Regions from separate parts of the Homo sapiens genome. Here region 2 is linked to region 1. A link means that fine-mapping ties the variant in region 1 to the expression of a gene that starts in the linked region. Tissue or cell type: whole blood. Region 1 holds a variant in brackets; the other region holds the start of a gene. All regions are shown on one strand. Distances are from middle to middle.

What was found. PIP is the estimated chance that this variant, and not a neighbour inherited with it, causes the effect.
Region 2: it holds the start of SLFN5, and the variant in region 1 is fine-mapped to the expression of SLFN5 in whole blood (TOPMed, PIP 0.99).

The regions. Positions count from the first base shown.
Region 1 is chr17:35,153,693-35,160,084 of GRCh38, reverse strand. UNC45B (unc-45 myosin chaperone B) reads right to left here. Exons shown (of 20, transcript NM_001267052.2): 6 at 5,344-5,511; 7 at 4,621-4,789; 8 at 540-710. Among named protein-coding and RNA genes, the nearest start is that of UNC45B, 9.1 kb to the right of the region's middle. The variant C/T (reference allele first, on the strand shown) is at 2,752.
Region 2 is chr17:35,239,655-35,245,172 of GRCh38, reverse strand. SLFN5 (schlafen family member 5) reads right to left here and starts at 2,101. Exons shown (of 5, transcript NM_144975.4): 1 at 2,030-2,101. LOC105371932 reads left to right here and starts at 1,022. Exons shown (of 4, transcript XM_047437262.1): 1 at 1,022-1,062; 2 at 1,954-2,251; 3 at 2,348-2,547; 4 at 3,203-5,130. The coding sequence starts at 1,022. The coding sequence ends at 3,650. RefSeq lists enhancers at 1,058-1,686, 1,660-1,769, 2,290-2,349.

The sequences.
Region 1 (6,392 bases):
ATTGAAGCCCTTAAAATCATCTTTGGAGAAAGGCTCAGACCACAGACTGTTTCTGTGATTCTGTGTTTCCTCTCTGCGGGGCATGTCCGTAATCTTGGCAAAATAAACTTCTAAATTGATTGAGACCTGTCTCAGATACTTTTGGGTTTACAAACATTCTCACTGTGCTTTATATAAACTATACTTGATGCAATTTCCTCCCTTTTGAAAGGCCTGTGAAGTATTTTACCAACCATGAGACTTCTGGAATTTTATCCTGTGGTTGGTGGAGTCCTTGTCCCCATTTGCTAGGTTGCTTCACCCACATGTTTTGGGGATGTGTTTGGGCACTTCCTGGGCATGTTCAGGCTCTGAATTCAGAGCCTTGACCTGCACCTTCACAGGCCCACTGGTGGATCCTGATGGGCCAATGCCTTTTCTCATCTTTTCAGTTAGAACTGAAGACCCCTTCAAGAGCCTCACATCTTCCATTTTCTGTTCAGTGCCCTGGTGCCCACTTAAAAGGCTTGAGCAAGCCCCAAACCTTCCCCTCTTCTCACCATTATCCACCACATAGATGGTACGTGAGTTGTCATGAATGGCAAGGTCCTTCCTGGGAACATTCTTATTGAGCAGGTTCAGCGCCTGATCCCTGCCCTGGCCAGACACCTTCTTGCTGACTAGCATGTCCAGCAGGTGGCTGGTGATCTGCTTCAGGTCCTTCTTGGTGTCTGAAGAAAAAGAGGACGGGGTAAGTAGAGAGGGGTAGGAAATCTCACATATATATGACCAAGAAGAGCAGCAGCTTCTAGACTCTGGAAGTACTGAATCCACTACTTCCTGAATATGTGAATTCCCAGGGGAGTATAGTGTTGCCCATCTCACCTGGAAAAAGGGAGAGAAATCCCTAGACAACACCCCCAAGTGGTCCTCCAGCCACCCTGAACCCTGACTTCTACAACAGCTCATTCCATCCTTGAGCAGTTCAGATTCTTAGAAAGTTCTTCACTCCTACCAGTGACTGGCAGAGATCCAGGGATGCTTTATGTGGTTTCTAATAAACTGATTTAATAAAATGCTTTCCAGAAGGGGAATTTGTACTTTTTAGGGACATTTCACTCCCCACAGATTCAGGCATGCTGGGAGCCTGAATTCAAGCTTTTGCCTGTGACGCCGGGACTTCCTGCCCACTGGTAGATCTTAAAAGGCAAATGCCTTTTTTTCTGATTTTGCCCTCCAAGATACTTAGAGATTTTTGTTCTCATTCTAGGATGGAGCCCAAAGGCAGGCAAACCAAAAAGTAAAGCTCTCCAAACCATGTCAGATAAATAACTGATGAAGGAATACAGCTCCATCGCCTAAAGAAGGAAAGATGTAAGCAGATGTGACAGTTCGTCTTCAGACAGAGGCATGTCATGAGAGTGAGATAACAGACTCCTTCTGTGAGGCTCCAGAGGGCAGACTTTGGACCAGAGGCAGATGGAAGCTACAAGGGGATAGAGTGGAAATCAATATGTGGAAGAATTTTGTAGCAGAGATGTTCAACCCAAGGAAGTCATGGAAGATTGTGAATTGGTGTCTCCCTGGGAAACACGACACTCATTATAAATGCTCTTGGGTAATCTCCTCCAACACTGGCCCTGGGCTGCTTATGTGACCTGTGGCACAACCAGAGGCTTACATGGCACTTGCACATTGGGGCTTGTCCATTTAGAATCCAGCCACCATGTTCTATAGAAACCCAAGCTGGCCACTAGCAAGGCCACAAGATCAACAAGGTCACAAGGCCACAAGGTCAACATTTCCAGTTGACTGCCAGCCACACAAGCAGGGCCATCTTGGATCTTCCAAAAATTCTAGCTCAGAAAAGGAAAGTGACTAGCTGACCATTATAATAATAGTAAGTCAGAGTCACATCAAGAATCCAGGACTTCAGGGCTGGGCGCAGTGGCCTGTAATCCCAATATTTTGGGAGGCCACAGCAGGAGGATCACTTGAGGCCAGGGGTTTGAGACCAGCCTGGGCAAGAAAGTGAGACCCTGTCCCTATGAAAAATTTAAAAATTAGCCAGGCATGGTGGCACGAGCCTGTAGTCCTAGTAACTCCAGAAGCTGAGGTGGAAGGATTGAGCCCAGAAGTTTGAGGCTGCAGTGAGCTGTGATTGCATTACTACAGTCCAGCCTGAATGATAGACAAGACTCTGTCTCAAAGCAAACAAACAACAAAAAAAAACTCTTATAGACAAATAAGAACAACATTAAGAAATAGGTAACAACATGAACAAACCATCCAAAGACAAAGGAATCCAAATGGCTAATAAAGATACAGAAAAATGATCAATCTGATGAATAATTTAGTTTGAATCTAACACGATAATTTTGAATCTACTGGATAGGCAAATATCTTTAAGAAGGATAGCATTCAGATCTGATGAGAATGTGTTAAAATGGAGACTCTCATCATTGCTTGTGAGAGTATAAATTGATGCAGCCTCTCAGAAAGGAATTAGAGAGCAAGATATAGAAAGAACATTAGTTATTCTCATAGCCTTTGACCCAGTGCTCCTTTTCTAGGAATTTGACCCCAGGAAATAATTATAAATGTGGCCAGGTATGGTGGCTCACACCTGTAATCCCAGTACTTTGGGAGGCAGAGGCGGGCGGATCACCTGAGCTCAGGAGTTTGACACCAGCCTGGCCAACATGGTAAAACCCCGTCTCTACTAAAAATACAAAAATTAGCAGAGGCTGAGGCAGGAGAATCGCTTAAACC[C/T]GGGAGGTGGAGGTTGCAATGAGCTGAGATCGTGCCACCGCACTCCAGCCTGGGCAACAGAGCAAGACTCCATCTCAATAAATAAATAAATAAATATAAATAAATAAAAATAAATTATAAATGCAAGCATAGATGCAAAAATGGCTCCTGGAGAGTTTTGTATAAACATGCAAATTGGAAATAACTGGAATCTCCAATAATATAGAGCTGATTGATGAATAATCCATACAAGGGAAGATTATGATATTCTTGAAAATAAAGTTTTCTGAGTGAACCTGCCTCTTTGGCCCTCCCAGCCAGAGCAATATCTTCTAAATTGATGCCTAGGACCTGGATGTGCACGGAGAAGCATGAGTCTGTATGTGCATATGCAGGAAACAAATGTAAAATTAATTATTAAAATCAAAGGAGTCCTTTTAAAGAATATTAAATGGTATGCAATATTAATATAATGCTCAGTGCAGAAAAAAACATATAACTATTCATAGCAGAATTCCAATTTTGTTAAATATTGATGGTTTAAAAAAAAAGAGAGGAAAGATCCATGTGGTAATGGTAATAGTGATTACCTGAATGGGTAATTATAGGCATTTATTCTCATTTTTACGTAGTTCTATATTTTCCCAAATGTCTTCAATAAGCCTCTGTTACTTTTTTTAAGCTGTGGTAAAATTTACATAAAATTTACCATTTTAACCTTTTTTTTTTGAGACGGAGTCTCACTCTGTCACCCGGGTTGGAGTGCAGTGGTGCAATCTCGGCTCACTGCAAACTTCGCCTCCCCGGCTCAAACGATTCTTCTGCTTCAGCCTCCCAAGTAGCTGGGATTACAGGCATGCGCCACCATGCCCGGCTACTTTTTGTATTTTTAATAGAGACAGGTTTTCACCATGTTGGTCAGGCTGGTCTTGAACTCCTGACCTCATGATCCATCCACCTCGGCCTCCCAAATTGCTGGGATTACAGGAGTGAGTCGCTGCACCTGGCCCCATTTTAACCATTTTTAAGTGTTCAGTTCAGTGGCATTAAGTATATTCACATCATTGTGCAAACATCACCACAATCTATCCACAGAATGTTTTTCATCTTGCAAAACTGAAACTTTGTCCCCATTAGAAAATAACCCGCCATTTCCCCTCTTCCATCCTCTGCCAAACACTATTCTACTTTCCATCTCCATGAATTTGACTACTCTAAGTATCTCATATGAGTGGATTCATGCAGTATTTGTCTTTTTGTGGCTGGCTTATTTCACTAGCATAATGTCCTAATGTTCATTGACGTTGTTGCATGTGTCAAATTTTCCTTTCTTTTCAAGGCTGACTAATATTTCATTGTATGTATATACCATATTTTGCTCATCCAGTCACCCACCAATAGACGCTTGAGTTGTATCCATCTTTTAGCAATTGTGAATACTGCAGCTATGCCTGTTACTTTTATAATCAGAAAATACATATAACAGGCCAGGTGTAGTGGCTCATGCCTGTAATCCTAGCACTTTGGGAAGCCAAGGCAGGCAGATCACCTGAGGTCTGGAGTTTGAGACCAGCCTGGCCAACATGAAGAAACCCTGTCTCTACTAAAAATACAAAAATTAGGCAGGCATGATGGTGTGTGCCTGTAGTCCCAGATACTCGGGAGGCTGAGGCAGGAGAAGTGCTTGAATCCAGGAGGTTGCAGTGAGTCTAGATCGCGCTACTGCACTCCAGCCTGGGTGACAGAGTAAGACCCCATCTCAAAAAAAGAGAAGAAAAGAAAATACATAAAACCAAGCCACCCCCACATACAGGGAATTCCCAGTCTGAGGTAGCAACTGACCTTTTCTTTCCCCATCCCCTTGAATCAAAACTGAAGAATGTTTCCTACCTAGAACCAGGGCCTCCTCCTTCCCTCGATGCTCCCGCTTGTCCTCCCCAGACAAGGAGTCAATGATGGCTTGGAGCAGGTTGCAGACAGCCAGAGACATCTCCTCATTCTCCACGGCCATGAGGCTACAGATTCGGTCTATCCGCACTGCATGCAGAATCACTGTGGCCTAGAACCCCAGCAAGAACCATGGTCAGCTGCCTTGCCCCTCCCTTCTAGCTGCCATGCAGGTTAGAGAGGGTGTGATAATCCTCCCCACCCTATCCCATGCAGTAGAGAAATCAGCCCAGGCAGCCATTGCCTCATGGGCCCCTCTGTCCTGGAAACCTCTTGACAACAAGCCATGCCCATCTCTGGAGGTCAGAGCTGTGCCATCCAATACAGTGACCACCGGCCACATGGGGCCGTTGAGCTCTTGCACGGTGGCAGGACCATATGGAGATATGCTGTAGTGTGAAATACACACTGGGTTTCAAAGACTTAGCATGAAAAAATGTAAAATATCATAGCCTTTGCATTCATCACTTCTGCCTTAGGCACTTTCAGTAACTTGTCTTTGCTTAGTGAAACCCATTTCCAACTGAAAGGGAAAAAGAGACTGGAGCACCCTTTGACTTTTTATCTGGTTCCATTGATGCCAGCCACAGCCCTGACCACACGTCACCCTCCGGATCCTTGGACCAGCAGTCGTCTGCTCCACATGCCCCACAGCCGGGCACTTACTCTGGCTTGGTGGCCGCTGCACATGCCCGACAGGGTCCGCACTGCAGCCAGCACCAGCTCAGGCTTCTTAGTGTCCAGAAGCTGCAGTAGCAAGGCTACTCCATTGTTCTGGAAGATCTTCTCAGCCCCTGCTTCCTCACGGCCTAGGACAATGAGATTGTTGGCAGCCTGAAGGAGGAAGAGGCAATAAGGGTTACGAGGGAGGTACGGCCACCCAGGCCTGGACCATGGGCCAAGTACAAGAAGAGCCAGTGCAAAGACTGGATCTTCAGAACATTGTTCTATTATCTCACCTTGGTAATCCTCCTCCTGGAAACACAGCCCAAGAACATAATTCAAGAAAAAAAGCCAAGTAATTTGCATCAAGACCAGCTGGATGAAATATATTGCAGCCATTAAAGTCATGAATAAAAAGACTAAGAGCAATGGAAAAAGCATTGGTATGCAGAATCAGGATCAAATGTTTACTCCAATTGCACTTATGTTAAAATAAAGATGTATATAATGCTTACAGAGAAGGACTAGAAAAAAGGTGGAGAAATGAAGTGTTTTTACATGGAGAATGATTTCCTTAAACATTTTGTTGATTTTCCTGTTCAGGGGAATCTGAAGTTCCCAGGAAGTGAGCAGCAAAAACACTAGATGGGACCTGAAAGCCCTGGGTTTGAGTTCTGATTCTGCTCCCTGCTAGCTGTATGAGCTTGGGTGAGTCACGGCACTTCTCTGGACCCCAGACTCTTCATCTGTAAATTTAGGCAGTTGAGCAAGCAGGTTCCCAAGTCTCTTCCCACCTAAAGCCTTCCAACTTAAGGATGCATGAACCTTAAAATAAAAGGCTCCAGGTCTCAAGCAGGACCTGAGAACCCAGGGCTGAGAAACACAGGAGGTGGAAGAAGGGGAAGGGGAGGAGGTGGGCAAAGAGATGTTGAGTTGGGTGCTGGGGAGAGGGCTGATTAGAGAATTCCAGGCAAGCGTGACCAGAACCATCACTATCAACTAAGGGCTTTGTACTTTTCCAAAAAAAAAAAAACCAAATAAACAAAAAAAAC
Region 2 (5,518 bases), 86 kb before region 1:
AAGCCTTTCTTTAAGTGCTTTCTTTAAGTGAAACAGTGAAAGTATAGGGAAAAAACACATTAGATATAGGGTTTGGTGCTACCCATGGTTTCAGGCATCTGGTTTTAGGCATCAACTTAGGGTCTTGGGACATATCCCATGGTTAAAGTGGGGCTGCTATAAACACGTGTGAATTTTCATAATCAGGCCAGGAGTGGATCACAGCATTTTCCTCTTCTTCCTCTTACATGGAAATAATAAAACTGCTTATTTTCTTAAACAAAAGAGTTTAATTCTTGTGACTTTTTTTATGGTGGGGGGAGGGGGTGGTTCAAGCAATTCTCCTGCCTCAGGCTCCGAGTAGCTGGAATTACAGGCATGTGTCATCACATCCAGCTAATTTTTGCATTTTTTGTACAGATGGGGTTTCACCATGTTGGCCAGGCTGTCTCGAACTCCTGACCTCAAGTGATCCGCCCACCTCACGTGATCCACCAGCCTCAGCCTCCCAAAGTGCTGAGATTACAGGCATAAGCCACGGCGCCCGGCCTCTTGTGACATTTAAATGAATACTTCTGACACAGGATGTTATCACACTGAATTGCTTGTCTGTTATCCTGCCACAGGAACTCTCACCTCCCATGAGACAGACAGATTAGGAATCGGCTTCTTTTTCCCCCACAAAGGCAGGCACAGCCTCCGCCCCCTTCTCATAGGGCGAGGCCAGACAAACTTTAGCCATTGCTCTCATCTTCTCCTAGAGGCTTGGCTCTAAACCAACGCCCTCCCACCCGCTATTGGTAGGGGAGGGGAGGAACTATTGAAAAGTTCCCCCCATCCTCCCTCAAGCATCCCTTCCTGCCTGCACTAGTGACAAAGGATCCCCTTCTGGTGCAACCGAGCCCCTCAAGATTTCAGCACCCCAACATTTTTAGTGATGAAACCATGAAAATTCCGATGAGGCCCTTGCTTATTTGCATATGTTAACTACCCACTTTTTGCCCAATATTCCTTTTTCTAGCAATATAATTATAAACTGCTGATGCACCGTTTCTTTGTCAAGCAGGAGGATATAGCTTCAGAGTCAAGAAAAAAATTTTGCAGAAGGAATGAATGCCTTTAAGGGCATTGTGACCAGCTGCTGACGCCCAGAAGTCTGGTGGTTCAAGATGTAATCTGAGACGAAGAAAGACTTTTCCCCGAGGTTCCCTGAAATTCCCCCTCCCTTACTTCCTGGTCTCATAAAAACTCCCCACTACTTCTTTTTGTTAGGGTGGATTTGAGAGATCTTGACCTCTTGCCTTCTCGCTTTGGCCAAATGGAATAAATCTTCCTCTGTCTCCAAGCATCTGTGTGTCAGTGTTTGGCATCAACAGCACATCAGGTTCCTGAGCCTGAATTTGGGCTTCGACAACTCGGGCTCCCGGGACACATGCAAGAGGGAAACGGAATCACACCGCAGTCTCAGCCACTGCGGATATGACCAACTAGGGCTCTAGTTAGTCACTGTATGGGGGATACAGGGCTTTGTGGGCTACCCTAGTAGCCTGCCCCTGTTGTTACAGTTTGAAGACTGACGTTCCAAGCCAGGGGCTTATAGGCAAGCCTCTGGAACAAAGCCTCTTGTAATAGACTGGACATTGGCCCTATTTGTCCCCAGGCCACAACCCATTTAACTTCATCCTCGGGAGCCCCGATTTCGTCGTTTTCCCTTAAGTCCTTCGTGCTCCTGAACCGTGGGGAAATGTTGCCAGGTTTGGTTTGCTAAGATGTAGGCTGCGCTGGGTCGGCGCCTCTCCCTCCTCCCCAGCTCGCCCCGCGTTCCGAACCTCCCAGCTCCCGGGTCCTCTGCCACTAGCTGTCGTTGGAGGTGCTCCTGAGTCAACAAACTAAATCTCCCCAGCGGGAAAGACTCTCTCCCGGCAGCGCCCAGACCTGGGGAGCTGCAGTCGCCGCACCTTGTCTTCACCACAGCCCAATAGGAGAACCCGCGCAGACCGGGGGGAGGTTTGGGGAAGGCCTGGGCAAAGAAGCGCGGGGGATTCATTACCCGCTGGGTTCTCCTCGGCAGCGCGTCTCCCTCCGGGAGCAGGCAACGGAGCCTCCCAAGTCCAGAGCAGAGAACCTGACCCGGCGGGATCCCGGGCTTATATCAGCTGAGTTCCGTGACACCTCCCGGGGCGGGACATCGCGCAGGAGACAGACAGAGGTACAGCCCAATCGCATCGTTACGTGGAGCCGGAAGCCCACTCTTGCAACTACAACAGTCTTGGTAAACCTTGGGTGGACTGGGGAGAACTGAGGAGGGGAAGCGCTTTTTTGTTGCTTCTCTGTGTTTTCTATTTTATTTTATTTATTTTATTTTTAGATTTTCAGTTCTTATTTCACCCAGGGAAGGAGACCTGGGTATCCACCCCATGTCCTCCAGAGAACTTCCCTGGCCCCGCTCGGAGTCTTCCTGGGACGCCACAGGCTCGGAGAGCGCTCCGCAGGTTTCTCCCCCGGCGCCTCCAAATCTTTCGATTCCTACTCGAATTACTCCGTCAGCTGCTGGAAGAGGGGCAAGGGGTATGGCGAGACGCGTTGGTACATGGGGCACTGGGGGGAAGGGAAAGCCTCCCTCCTTCTCCTAGTAATTCGAGAATGTTGCGTCCGCCTCCTTTCTTTTGCTGGCGCTAGGGGCTCGGACCAGCACCTGCCAGGCATAGGTGTGGCCACTGGGGCGAAACCTGGCAGGCTCTGGAAACAGCGTTTTACTGACAGGAAAGAGAAACTGTTCTTTGTATTCATCACCCACCGCAGACTTCCTCACGCCCGGGTCTTAGGCGGGGCTGTCAGATTTCAGTGTGTTTCTCTTAATTCTAGTACTAAATTTGTACTGGGCGCTGGCGAAGGGCCTGGCTCCGCCACGCGCGGCCCTCTCGAACTGCCCGTGGGTACGGCGCGCGCTGCTGCCCTGTGTGGCCTGTGCGGGGAACCCGAGGGCCGAAGTGGGCCCCGCCGCAGCACAGGGGGACAAGAGAACCAGGAGCGGGCTGCCTGGGGGCAGATTCGAACCCGTGCTCCCAGCGGATAGAAGTAGCACTTGGGGACTCCTAAAATATTCAGCCCAATCCTGATTCCAGCTGCCCTCTCTAGGCACCTTTCCTCTACCCTTCTTCCAGTTTACAATTCTGGTGAGTAGATGTTTCTCTATCTCTTCTCTTCCAACTCCTGCGCCCAGAGCCAGGAGGACTTCTGGAGCCCGCCCAGCAAGACCCTCTCTCTCCCATCTTCTGCTCAAGGGCTCGAGGTCTCAGTGGACAGAGCTGAAGAAAAGCCGTCTATGGAGCCTGCGCCAGGCGCAGACTGGGTCGTCGCAGTCTGGGTCGTCGCAGTCTGGGCCGGGGCGCTGGAAGTCTTACTCACTTCTCAAGAACCCGCAAGGGATCAGGCCTGACCCTTTGCAAGTGACAGAATCCAAAGCTTTGAGCTCATGGGAAAGTGGCTGGAAAGAAGGTCACTGTAGGGCCGCACAGGTCTCTGGCGAGGCTACCCAAGAACATTTAAATCCCTGCCCAGAGAAGAAGAGGCTCCAGCTGTCCTGCACCTTCCTGGGAACTGGCAGTCCCTCCGCGCAGGGGTTCTGCAGCGACCGGCAGCGCGAGGAGACAAGGATGGTGGCCAGTTAACAGAAAATCAAGGCAGCGGGAAAGGTCTGGAAAACACCACCTACTATCACCTCTGGAGCCTGGGATTATGGGATAAGTTTTCGATTTTTAAATGTATTGTCAAATAGCTAAAGTACACGGAAAGTGCGAAATAATAGTAAATTGAACACCTGTGTATTCACCACACAGCTTAAGCAATAACATTAGCAATATTTGGGTACCCAGCTGGTCTCATTCCCTCATTCCACTTGTCCCCTACTCACCTGATAGCCAGTACAATTTTATGAATTTAAAGTTACTAATTCCCATGCAACTGTTTATACTTTTAGTAAATGTGTTTATGTCCCTCATCAACACATGACACTGATTCAACACATGTATATGCGTTTAAGCTGCATGTAAATGGCATCATGTTGGCCAGGTGCAGTTACTCACGACTGTAATTCCAGCACTTTGGAAGGCTGAGAGGGAAGACGGCTTGAGGCCCAGAGTTTGAGACCAGCCTGGGCAACATAGCAAGACCCTATCTCTAAAAAAAAAAAATTGTTTGTTTGTTTGTTTGTTTGTTTGAGACGGAGTCTTGCTGTGTCACTCAGGCTGGAGTGCAGTGGCGCAATCTCGGCTTGCTGCAATGTCGGCCTCCGGGGTTCAAGCAATTCTCCTGCCTTGGCCTCCCAAGTAGCTGGGACTACAGGCACATCCCACCACGCCCAGCTGATTTTTGTATTTTTAGTAGAGACAAGGTTTCACCATATTGGCCATGCTGGTCTACGAACTCTTGACCTCATGATCTGCCTGCCTCGGCTTTCCAAAGTGCTGGAATTACAGGTGTGAGCCCCCGCGCCCAGCCAAAAAAATTGTTTTAAATTAGCTGGGTGTGGTGGTGCCTGCCTATGAAGTCCCAGCTACTCAGGAGGCTGAAGTGGGAAGATGGCTTGAGCCCAGGAGTTGAAGGATGCTATGAGCTCTGATTGTGCCACTGCACCCCTGCATGGGCAATAGAGTGAGACCCTGTCTCTTTAAAAAAAAAAAAAAAAGTATCATATTGTATGTGTTCTGTAGAACTTGCTCCCACACTTTAACATTTTGCTTTAAAGATTTGTTCATGTACTTAGATCATTCCTTTTCACTGCTTTATGAGCTGAATCATTTCTGCTCTTCTTTCCATCCATACCCATTGGTCTCCAAAGTATCCAGGCCTCCCCAAAAGTTCCTGCAGGAGACCTCAGTTCCACTGGCTTTCAGGTCATTATTGTTCCAGCACTACTTCTCCATTTCTGGTTCCAGCCCTTCTCTCCCACATTCTCAAGCTTCTAGAGGGTCATAAGAGAGGAAAAACGCCAAATGCCTTTGATAAAATGTTGCCTTTCCAGTGGTATGCATGTTTGTGTGGAGTGGGAGGGAAGTGAGGGCAGATGTGACTTACTCTCAGCATTAATTCAAGTTTAAAAGTAAAATCTTTAGGTTTGCCTTGTCCAGTAAAAAATGCCAAGAGCCATAACTGCTCATTCTCTCTCTCTCTCTCTCTTCTCTCTCTCTCCTCTCTCTCTCTCTCTCATACACACACTTGGTTAATGCAATATTTACGTTGTTTTTGCTTCAACAAACTAAAGAGGAGAAGAGAGTTGGTAGGTTAAAGGGGCAGGTTATTCTTTTTTTTTTTTTTTTTTTTGAGGCAGAATCTCGCTTTGTCACCCAGGCTGGAGAGCAGTGGCTCGATCTTGGCTCGCTGCAAGCTCTACCTCCCAGGTTCATGCCATTCTCCTGCCTCAGCCTCCTGAGTAGCTGGGACTACAGGTGCCCGCCACCACACCCAGCTATTTTTTTTTTTTTTGTATTTTTAGTAGAGACGGGGTTTCACTGTGTTAGCCAGGATGGTCTCAGTCTCC